2 separate regions of the Homo sapiens genome follow, and region 1 is linked to region 2. Evidence: fine-mapped expression QTL. Tissue or cell type: whole blood. Region 2 holds a variant in brackets; the other region holds the start of a gene. All regions are shown on one strand. Distances are between the middles of the regions.

What was found. PIP is the estimated chance that this variant, and not a neighbour inherited with it, causes the effect.
Region 1: ZNF613 starts here. The variant in region 2 is the best candidate, but not a certain one, in a credible set for the expression of ZNF613 in whole blood (TOPMed, PIP 0.68).

The regions. Positions count from the first base shown.
Region 1 is chr19:51,925,401-51,930,630 of GRCh38, reverse strand. It overlaps ZNF613 (zinc finger protein 613), which reads right to left and starts at 3,159. Exons shown (of 6, transcript NM_001031721.4): 1 at 3,091-3,159; 2 at 735-899. RefSeq lists enhancers at 3,221-3,520, 3,376-4,139.
Region 2 is chr19:51,949,781-51,955,010 of GRCh38, reverse strand. The region is part of intron 1 of ZNF350-AS1 (ZNF350 antisense RNA 1); the gene reads right to left. Among named protein-coding and RNA genes, the nearest start is that of ZNF350-AS1, 3.3 kb to the right of the region's middle. The variant C/T (reference allele first, on the strand shown) is at 2,445.

The DNA.
Region 1 (5,230 bases), 24 kb after region 2:
GCATAAAAAAGAATGAAGTACAGATACATGCTACGACACAGACAAACCTTGAAAACATTATACTATGTTGGCTGGGCGCAGTGGCTCACGCCTGTAATCTCAGCACTTTGGGAGGCTGAGGTGGGCGGATCAGCTGAGGTCAGGAGTTTGAGACCAGCCTGGCCAACGTGGCAAAACCCCGTCTCTACCAAAAATACAAAAATTAGCCATGCATGGTAGCAGGCACCTGTAATCTCAGCTACTTGGGAGGCTGAGGCAGGAGAATCACTTGAACTTGGGAGGTGGTGGTTGCAGTGAGCTGAGATCACGCCACTGCATTCTAGCCTGGGTGACAGAGTAAGACTCTGTCTCAAAAAAAAAAAAATTATGCTATGTGAAAGAAACCAGTCACAAAAGATCACATATTATATTGTAGCGTTTACATGAAATGAAATAAGAGTAAATTAGAAGAAAACAGAAAGGTCAAAATAAGCAAATCTATAGAGACAGAAAGTAGATTAGAGATTACTTAGTGGTAGGGCATAGGGAGTGGTAACAAAAGGGTACAGGGTTTCTTTTTAAGTGATGAAAATGTTCTAAAGTTGACTTTGGTGATGGCCGCACATAGTAAAAGCCACTGAATTATACAGTATGGGACTAATAGACCTGTAATTAGGAAAAGCTGTCAGTAGAACTTAATTATGATAAACCTACTGAAATATTCAGGGGCAAATGTATGAATGTCTGCAACTTACTTTGAAATGCACCAAAAAACAAAGCAATATTTTACAAGATGGATAAATGTGGCTGGGTGAAGTGGCTCACACCTGGAATCCCAGCACTTTAGGAGGCCAAGGAGAGAGGATCACTTGAGGTCAGGAGTTCAAGATCAGCCTGGGCAACATAGTGAGATGCCATCTCTATAAAAAGAAAAAAAGGTGGATTAATGATGAGTAGAAGGATGATATATAGATAGATATGTAATAAAAGAAACACAATAAAATGATGATAAAATCCAGATGGTAGGCAAACAGGTATTCAATTGTAAAGTTCTTTAAATCATGTTATATGTTTGAAAGTTTTTGTAACCTGGAGAACAGGGAAGTTTGTTCAGTAAGGTGACCAAAAACAATGTAAATATTTTCTAAACTAATTGCTCTTCTATGTAAGAGTAAATTAGAAGAGAACAGAAAGGTCAAAATTAAAAACACACCATTTACAATTGCAAAAAAATTAAAAACTAAGGTGCTGATGAGGGTCAGGGAGAAACATGTTTGGGTAAACATAGAATTGTAACCCATTCTTAAAAGTGATAAGTGAACTTTTTAAGTCTTAAAATTCTATCTAAATATATCCATACACTTAGTGATTCAAGTCACAGTGGTGCAGTTTTGCCTCTTGATGGTATACTATTACAGAAATCTTAAAAAAAAATTTTTAAACAAAAACATGGATGATATGTTTACTATAAGAACGTTCATAATGTAAAATTAAATACGGCAAATTATACCAATGTTTCAGCAGCTTATCTGCATTGTGAAAATCAAGCATAGAAAACTGAAATTGAAATATACAAAAATCTTATCAAAAGTCATTACTGGGGAACACATTTTGGGATAAGAGAGATGTTTTACTTGTGTCAGAACCTGAAAGAAAATATTTACGTGTGTGTATACACACATTCACACAGTAAACCTGAGGAAGAAGAACGAAAATCTTTAATAGAAACCTTATCATTTTCTTCGTTTTGTTTTTTCCTTTTTCTTTTCTCCTTTTCTTTTCTTTTTTTTTTTTTTTTGAGGCAGGGTCTCACTCTGTTGCCCAGGCTGGAGTGCAGTGCTCAATCATAGTTCACTGCAGCCTAGAACTCCCGGGGTCACGTGATCGTCCCACCTCAGCCTCCCGAGTAGCTGAGACTACAGGCGTGTGTTACCACACCCAGTTAATATTTGTATTTTTTGGAGAGACAGGCTATGTTGTTCAGGCTGATCTCCAACTTCTAGGCTCGAGCAATTCGCCCACTTTGGCCTCCCAAATGCTGGGAATATAGGCGTGAGCCACCGCGCCAGGCCACCTTACCATTTTAGATTTGATTAATCTTTGATCTTCCCCAAAGCTTTCCTATTTACCAGGATGAGAGAAAGGAGAGATGTGAGAAGTCAAATGAGATTTGTAAACCAGTCCTTGCAGAGAAACTTAAAAGGGACTGAGAGGGAATGTACCGTTGGACCTGAACACACACACCAATCAGGATGCCCTGGCTGCCAAGGCTTCAGCCTTCACAAGCTTCTCCACGACTGTCACATCTAGACCTCCCTAACATGGTCACACCCCCTTAGATTAATCCAAAAACCTGGACCACACACCTAGGTTCACATGAACCCGGGCTCCTCCTCACTGAGTCGCATATTAAATCCTGATTACAGCCTGGAGCGAAGGCTCACGCCCGTAATCCCAGCACTTTGGGAGGCCAAGGTGAGAGGATCGTTTGAGGCCAGGAGTTGGAGACCAGCCTGGGCAACATAGTGAGACCCCCGTCTCTGCAATAAACAGATAGATTAGATAGATAAATTAGATAGATAGATAGATAGATAGATAGATTAGATTAGACAGATTAGATAGATAGATAGATAGATAGATAGCGTGGTGGCGCTCACCTGTAGTCCCAGCTACTCGGGAAAGCTGAGGTGGGAAAATCACCTGAGCCCCGGGAGATGGAGGCTGCAGTGAGCCACGATTGCGCCACTGCACTCAAGCCTGTGTGACAGAGCGAGACCCTGTCTCAAAAATAAAAAATAAAACCCCGAATCCGAAGCAGACACAGTTTTCCTTGACAAAAACCACTCCTCACTCCAGTCCTCAATCACCGAGCCCTACAGAGTGACCCGCAAAGGCACCAAACCCTGATCACGGACTTCCAAGTGTTGCTCTGGACAGACTCTGACCACCGACCACTGGGATCCCTCAGGGCTGACTCCGGAGACGCCCCAACCCCAATACCCCGACTCCCACTTGCTCCCGCTTCCCCCACAAACTCCACGGCTCCGCACTAAACGGACGCCCACAGACACCCTCCTCCCCTCATCCTGACAGACAGACCCACACACAGACCTGATTTTGCGGGGAACCCACCGAGACTTCCCAGAACCTGCACTTTCCTGAATTATTCCACTTCTGGGCCCTCCCCCAGCCTCCAAGCCGGCCTACGGCGGCCGAGGAAGGTCTGAAGTTGCAGGTGTACGGAGCACGGACGACTGGGAGGTAGTAAGTTCGCGTCCTCTCGTCACGGATACTGGAGGCAGCCATCTTTGAATCCTGCACGTACGGAAGGTAAAGTGGACCTTTTCTGCCCAAGTATTCAGGGATAGCGCGGGACGGTGAAGAACTCCATATTTTGGCACCTAAATCCTGCGCCCAAGTTTCATTTATTTTCAGAGGGTCGAGCTTAGCCAAGACAAACATGGTATGGCTACGTGCACCTTAGCGGGCTGGGGAGAAAAGTCATCCGCTTTGCACAAAGAATGACGGGAATGACACAATGGGCGCGGCCATCTTAACACTTAGGTGTCCGTACAAGTGAAAACGCTTTCTCCACAGAGGAAAAAGAGCAATCGCACCCTGAGTCATATACCGCGAAAACGCATCTAGCTACATGTGGAGGACAAGAGGAAGATTTTTGAGGACCAAAAGGGTGTGGAGAGGCAATCGAGGTACGAGGATATTGTTCACCCCGTCAACGGAAAGTGAAAAAACAGCGACCCCTGGAACCTCATTTACATTTGAGGGACACGGTCACCGCCCAGTGCAGGTAAAGAGAGCAGCCACCAGCCAACCGGAAAAGGAATCCAATGCGGGAGGCGGGAATTTTCCTTAAGAGAGAAGAAGGGCCTTCCCTCTGCTGTAGGTGGAGTCAATCTTAACGTCGGGGCTTTCGGAGAACCAAGTGCCTAAAATTCTGGAAGGAATAAATAAGGCGACTCTGGGAGAATGAAAAGTTGTGCAAGCCCGGGCGCGATGGCGCACACGTGTAGTCCCAGCTACTGGGGAGACCAAGGCAGGAAGATCGCTTGAGCCCAGGAGTTCCAGGCTGCAGTGAGCTATGATCGCACCTATCAATAGCCACTGCACTACACAGCCTTGGCAACCCCTTCATGAGGAAAAAAAGAAAAAAGAAAAAAAAAAGTTGTGCAAGAAAAGTAATCATAGGATACTACCTGACTGACCTATAAATATTATTTACATAGTCATCATAACGTAAATTCTAATTCTGATCCAACCTAAATTAAGACAATTCCATTGGAAGAATGAGAAGGAAATTCCTGCATGCAGTGGAGTGTTTATATTTATAACAGAGTTTTCACGTGTCCTTCATGATACATCTATAGAAAATGCCCCAAAATGCAAACTCCATTTCAGAAACATACCGTGTTACTTAAAATATCAAATCTGTGAAGAGTGAAAAGCTTTACAGAACTATATGACTCCTTAGGAGAATTGCAAAATAAAAGCAAGAATCTTATGACTCAGGAATTCCACTCCTAGATACTTATACAACAGTAATGAAATGATATGTCCTCACAAAGACTCACAAGAATGTTCTTAGCACCTTTATGCATAATACCCTGAACAGGAAACAGTCCAAGTGTCCATCAGTACATGAATGTATAAGCAAATTGCAGTGTAATCATACCCTGGAATACTACTGAACAATAATAAAAAACAAATCATAGATGCATGCACCAACATAGATAAATCTCAACAACCTTATGAAGGGGGCCAGCCTCTCCACACCTGTGGGTATTTCTCATCTGGTGGGATGAGAGACTGAGAAAAGAAATAAGACACACTGACAAAGTATAGAGAAAGAACAGTGGGCCCAGGGGACCAGCACTCAGCATACGAAGGACTCCTGCCAGCACTGGTCTCTGAGTTTCCTCAGTATTCATTGATCACTATCTCTACCATCTCGGTGAGGGGGATGTGGCAGGACTATAGGGTAATGGTGGGGAGAGGGTCAGCAGGAAAATATGTGAACAAAGTTCTCTGTGTCATAAATAAGGAAAGGTGCTGTGCCTTGATGTGCACGTAGGCCAGATTTATGTTTGACTTTACACAAGCATCTCAGTGTAGTATAGAGCAGTATTGCTGCCAGCATGTCTCACCTCCAGCCATAAGGCAGTTTTCTCCTATCTCAGTAAATAGAATGTACAATTGGGTTTTAAACTGAGACATTCCATTCCCAGGGATGAGC
Region 2 (5,230 bases):
ATTGGCAAAATTAACCCAGGCTTTTCACATGTCTTGGCCAAGGGCCCTTCCACTGGTTTTCCTTAACCTAAAATCCACCCCTTTTGGTAGACATCAGTTTTCCCTAATTGAGATAATAACAGGTAGATGCATGAAACTATCCCCAGGAAAGTATAAATCCATAATGCTAAAAGAAGACATATTAAATTTTTCTGACATCTTTATAAAACAACTACCTAAAAATCATAATTTGAAAAAAGACTCTTTTTATAGTGAACTCCCAGGAAACAAAGAACTTAAAACCCATGAACTTCAGCCAGGAGATTTTTTTCTACTGGAAATGATATCTAAAATGATATTTGGTTAAAGGACTCCCTTTAACCAAACTGGAAAGCGCTCTATTAGTTACTTTTTACTAATCCTTGCACTAAAATGTAGAAGGCATAGACGTGTGGATTCACATGTCTTATGTAAAGAAAGTTGAGCCTAAAAGAAAATAGTCTGTATATTGGGGGCGTCTAAAAGTTATTAGGACTTGAGGAAAGTTGACTTTGGAGACTGAGTCATAGAGCTTGACCTCTTAATTACTAACACTTTATTACAGATTAATTTCCTTCCATGTTTCCTAGATCCCAGGCCAGATGTCCCCGATATATAAGACCCTTTCACTGAAATAAAATATTCATTGACTGAGATAAAAGACTTTTTGACTATTATATACATAATGTAAAATGTTAAATATATCTTTCAAAAAAAAAGTCTCTTGACTCAAGCAAAATACTTAGGAGCAAACCTTAATTCCTCACTTTCTTCGTCCCCTTGTTTTGAACTCATCGGTGAGCCTTGTCTTCCTCCATTATATATCCTCCTTTCTAAGAAATATGTAAAGGTGGCATGAGTCTTGGTTTAAAAGGAATAAGGTGGTCCCTTAGGCCCCTTTTGTGATGCCAACCAAGACATAATTGTAGAATTATAGAAGATGCTATTAGTTACATGACAAGGGATCAGTGTATTAGGGACAATGAAATGGGAAAAATTCAGATCTGACATCTGTGTAGGTACTACATGCCAAATGTGACTGAAGGTGACAGACAACACATGTGGGCACCAGCAGTAGCACCCATTCAGTAACACATCTTATCCTATTCAGAAGCACATCTGCTTCTGGAGAGGTCTACATGGTTCATTGGCCTGTTGCAAACTTTCCAAATGATCATTGTTTCTCATCTTTCCCTCTTTCTTTAGAAGCACAGGAGAATGTGCCCACAGTGAGGCTAAAGGTTGGACACTGAGAATAAGTTTCTCTCTAAATGTGAGATTGGTGCTTTGGGAAAATTAGTTTGATGATACAGAATGAAGAAAAGGGATGCATTTTATTTTTATTTTTATTTTTTTTTATTGTTCATTCTTGGGTGTTTCTCGCAGAGGGGGATTTGGCAGGGTCATAGGACAATAGTGGAGGGAAGGTCAGCAGATAAACAAGTGAACAAAGGTCTCTGGTTTTCCTAGGCAGAGGACCCTGCGGCCTTCTGCAGTGTTTGTGTCCCTGGGTACTTGAGATTAGGGAGTGGTGATGACTCTTAACGAGCATGCTGCCTTCAAGCATCTGTTCAACAAAGCACATCTTGCACCGCCCTTAATCCATTTAACCCTGAGTGGACACAGCACATGTTTCAGAGAGCACAGGGTTGGGGGTAAGGTCACAGATCAACAGGATAAGAATTTTTCTTAGTACAGAGCAAAATGAAAAGTCTCCCATGTCTACCTCTTTCTACACAGACACCGCAACCATCCGATTTCTCAATCTTTTCCCCACCTTTCCCCCCTTTCTATTCCACAAAACCGCCATTGTCATCATGGCCCGTTCTCAATGAGCTGTTAGGTACACCTCCCAGACGGGGTGGTGGCCGGGCAGAGGGGCTCCTCACTTCCCAGTAGGGGCGGCCAGGCAGAGGCGCCCCTCACCTCCCGGACGGGGCGGCTGGCCGGGCGGGGGGCTGACCCCCCCACCTCCCTCCCGGACGGGGCGGCTGGCCGGGCGGGGGGCTGACCCCCCCACCTCCCTCCCGGATGGGGCGGCTGGCCGGGCAGAGGGGCTCCTCACTTCCCAGTAGGGGCGGCTGGGCAGAGGCGCCCCTCATCTCCCGGACGGGGCGGCTGGCCGGGCGGGGGGCTGACCCCCCCACCTCCCTAAGGGATGCATTTTAAAAACAGGATGACCATCTAAGAGTGTCACAGATACGTTGAAGTCGAAATCTGACATTCTGACTTGCCTCTCCCAAGATATTTGTTTAAAACAAGTGTGTCTGCTTATTTCCCTGATTGGATATAGGCAGTGTGTGTTTTCTCTCATAATTTGCAGCTACCTCATTTTTTAGTTTCCTTGTGTTTTTATTTTGTTTTCCCCAGCCAGAATGTAAGGTGGTGGTTCACGCCTGTAATCCCAGCACTTTAGGAGGCTGAGG[C/T]GGGTGGATCACCTGAGGTCTGGAGTTCGAGACCAACCTGGCCAACATGGTGAAGCCCCATCTCTACTAAAAATACAAAAAATTAGCTGGGCATGGTGGTGGGCGCCTGTAATCCCAGCTACTAGGGAGGCTGGGGTGGGAGAATTGCTTGAACCCAGGAGGTGGAGGTTGCAGTGAGCTGAGATCACACCATTGCACTCTAGCCTGGGTGAAAGAGCAAGATTCCATCTCAAAAGATATATATATATAATTTATATATTTATTTATATATGAAACTCTGGCTGTTCCTTATTATTGCATCATTGCTGTCACTGGGTGAAAGATAAGACTACCCATAGGCTAGAAAAATACAAAAGAAACCTACCCTCTACCATGCTACCTCAATTACTAACACAAAATCCACTCGGCCTGGCAATAAAAGTTAATGTTGCTATGATTACCCCACTTATCCACATTTCTATTCTACTACTTCCCCTACAGACACCTTCTAACATTGGCTTTCATATGGTTGGCTTCGGACCAAATCTTTTGGCATTCTCCCTCATGGCCTGACAAATTTTCCATTTAATCCCTTCATTCTCTGCCCTTCATTATGTTTATTCAAAATTTAGACATGCCTTTTACATATCATGCCATCATTCCCTATGCTCTATATATCACTTTAACCTCTATTTCCTTTACATTTCTACCATATTCCCTATCTTTGCTGATCATTTTTTAAACTGGCTGGATTTCCCCACAGAAATGATGTTAACAGTCTTTTTGAATAAATATAGAAATTGACTCTCCTAGTCTTAAAGCTTGAAACTTATATTCATTTTATCTGAGTTCGTTTCTCATGAAACCATTCAGGCCTCCCAGATAGTTCAAGGAACTGAAACTTACCAGATCACTGCATCTAGACAATGCGATGGTGGACCCCTCATCCATCATGATTGCCTAACCGACCACCTGATTCCTGTTGGCCAACTCCTCTTCCTTACCCTTCCCTAATTCCTGTTTTATATTCCTTGCCTGTTATATAAGCCACCAATTTTAGTCGGTTGTGGGGAGACAGATTTGATATTTATTTTCCTCTCCCACCTGATGTTACCCAAAAAAGCCTTTCTTCTCTCGCAATACTCATTGTCTCAGTGATTGTCTTTCTGTGTGGCAAGCAACGGGACCTAGACTGAACCCTTGGCATTTCAGTAACATCTTGACATGTAACTTCACACAACCTAGAATTCTAACAATACCTTGTGTTTAAATCCTGTATTACATACAGATATTTCATATATTTGTTACAAAAAATCATCACTACTAGAAGATATTTTCTTGTTTCTCACAAAATTCCATCCATTTTAGCATATATTAGGGCTGTGAGTTACCAAGTATGTCACAACAGCATTCCATAGAGAATTTTATCAACACTCTGCAGGGATTGTACTCCAAATCTATCAACCCAGACTCTCAGAGGGATAGGCCTTCATACATGCATTAGGTACGCATACTCCAGCAAATATTTGGATTTAAGAAACGCTTGGCTAGGAGCAGTCGCTCACGCCTGTAATCCTAGCACTTTGGAGTCCGAGGCAGGTAATGCATCAGGTGGATCACTTGGGCTCAGGAGTTCAAGACCAGCCTGGGCAACATGGTGAAACCTCATTTCTACAAAAAATACAAAAATTAGCTGGGCATGGTGGCGAGTGCCTGTAGTCCCAGCTACTGAAGTGGGAGAATCCCTTGAGTCTGGGAGGCGGAGGTTGCAGTGAGCCAAGATCATACTACTGCACTCTAGCCTGGGCAACGGTGTGAGACTCTGTCTCAATTTTTAAAAAATGACTTCCTCTTCTAGAGGAATTATCAAAAAAAACAGTATAAGCCACTTAAGAATAAATGTAACCATAAGATCTAGGACATAAAAAAGTGAATCACAAATCTTGGGGTGGGAACAGAAGAACTTGAGTAATTGGAGTATCAGAATGTTATATATAGATAGAAAATATAGAAATAGAATTGAATATTTTATACATGTCAATTCCATCCTAATTAAGGCAAACATTTAATGTGACTCCATTTACTAAGCCACTGGTACAACCTTCTGATGTGATACTGCCATTGAAAAATTTTATATGTAGTCCAGCTACTTGGGAGGCTGAGGCAGGAGGATCCCTTAAACCCAGGAGTTCAAGGTTAGAGTGAGCTGATGGCACCATTGTACTCCAGCCTGGGAGACAGGGCAAGACTGACTCTCTCTGTATAGAAAGATAGATAGATAGATAGATAGATAGATAGATAGATAGATAGATAGATAGATACATACATACATACATAGACAGATGTATATAGAGACAGAAATATAGATATATATACTATATATACATACATGTATGTATGTTTGTGATGAGAATTTAAGTGATGAAATCAAATATTTACCCAAAGTATTGCAATTGTGAAAACTGTGAGGATGAAACGAAAAAAAAAATGCTCCTAAATAAAAATCAGAAGTGTGGGTAACAGAGATTATTTTCTTGTGTTGGAATAAATCTGAAAGAAAATATTTATGAAAACGACATGGTAAAGTTGGGAACTAGAGAGGAAAAAAGCTCGACTTTAGTAGCAAACTCGTAATTTCCTCGTCCAGAAATTTGTAGACAATGATATGAATATAGGAAGGGAAATGTTTTTCATTGTTATTTTTAAGACGGACTTGGACTTGAAGAACTGAACTGCATGTAGATCCACTAGGTAAATGTAGTTTAATCACAACTGTAACCAGCAGTCAATTATTAAGCCTCAACCCA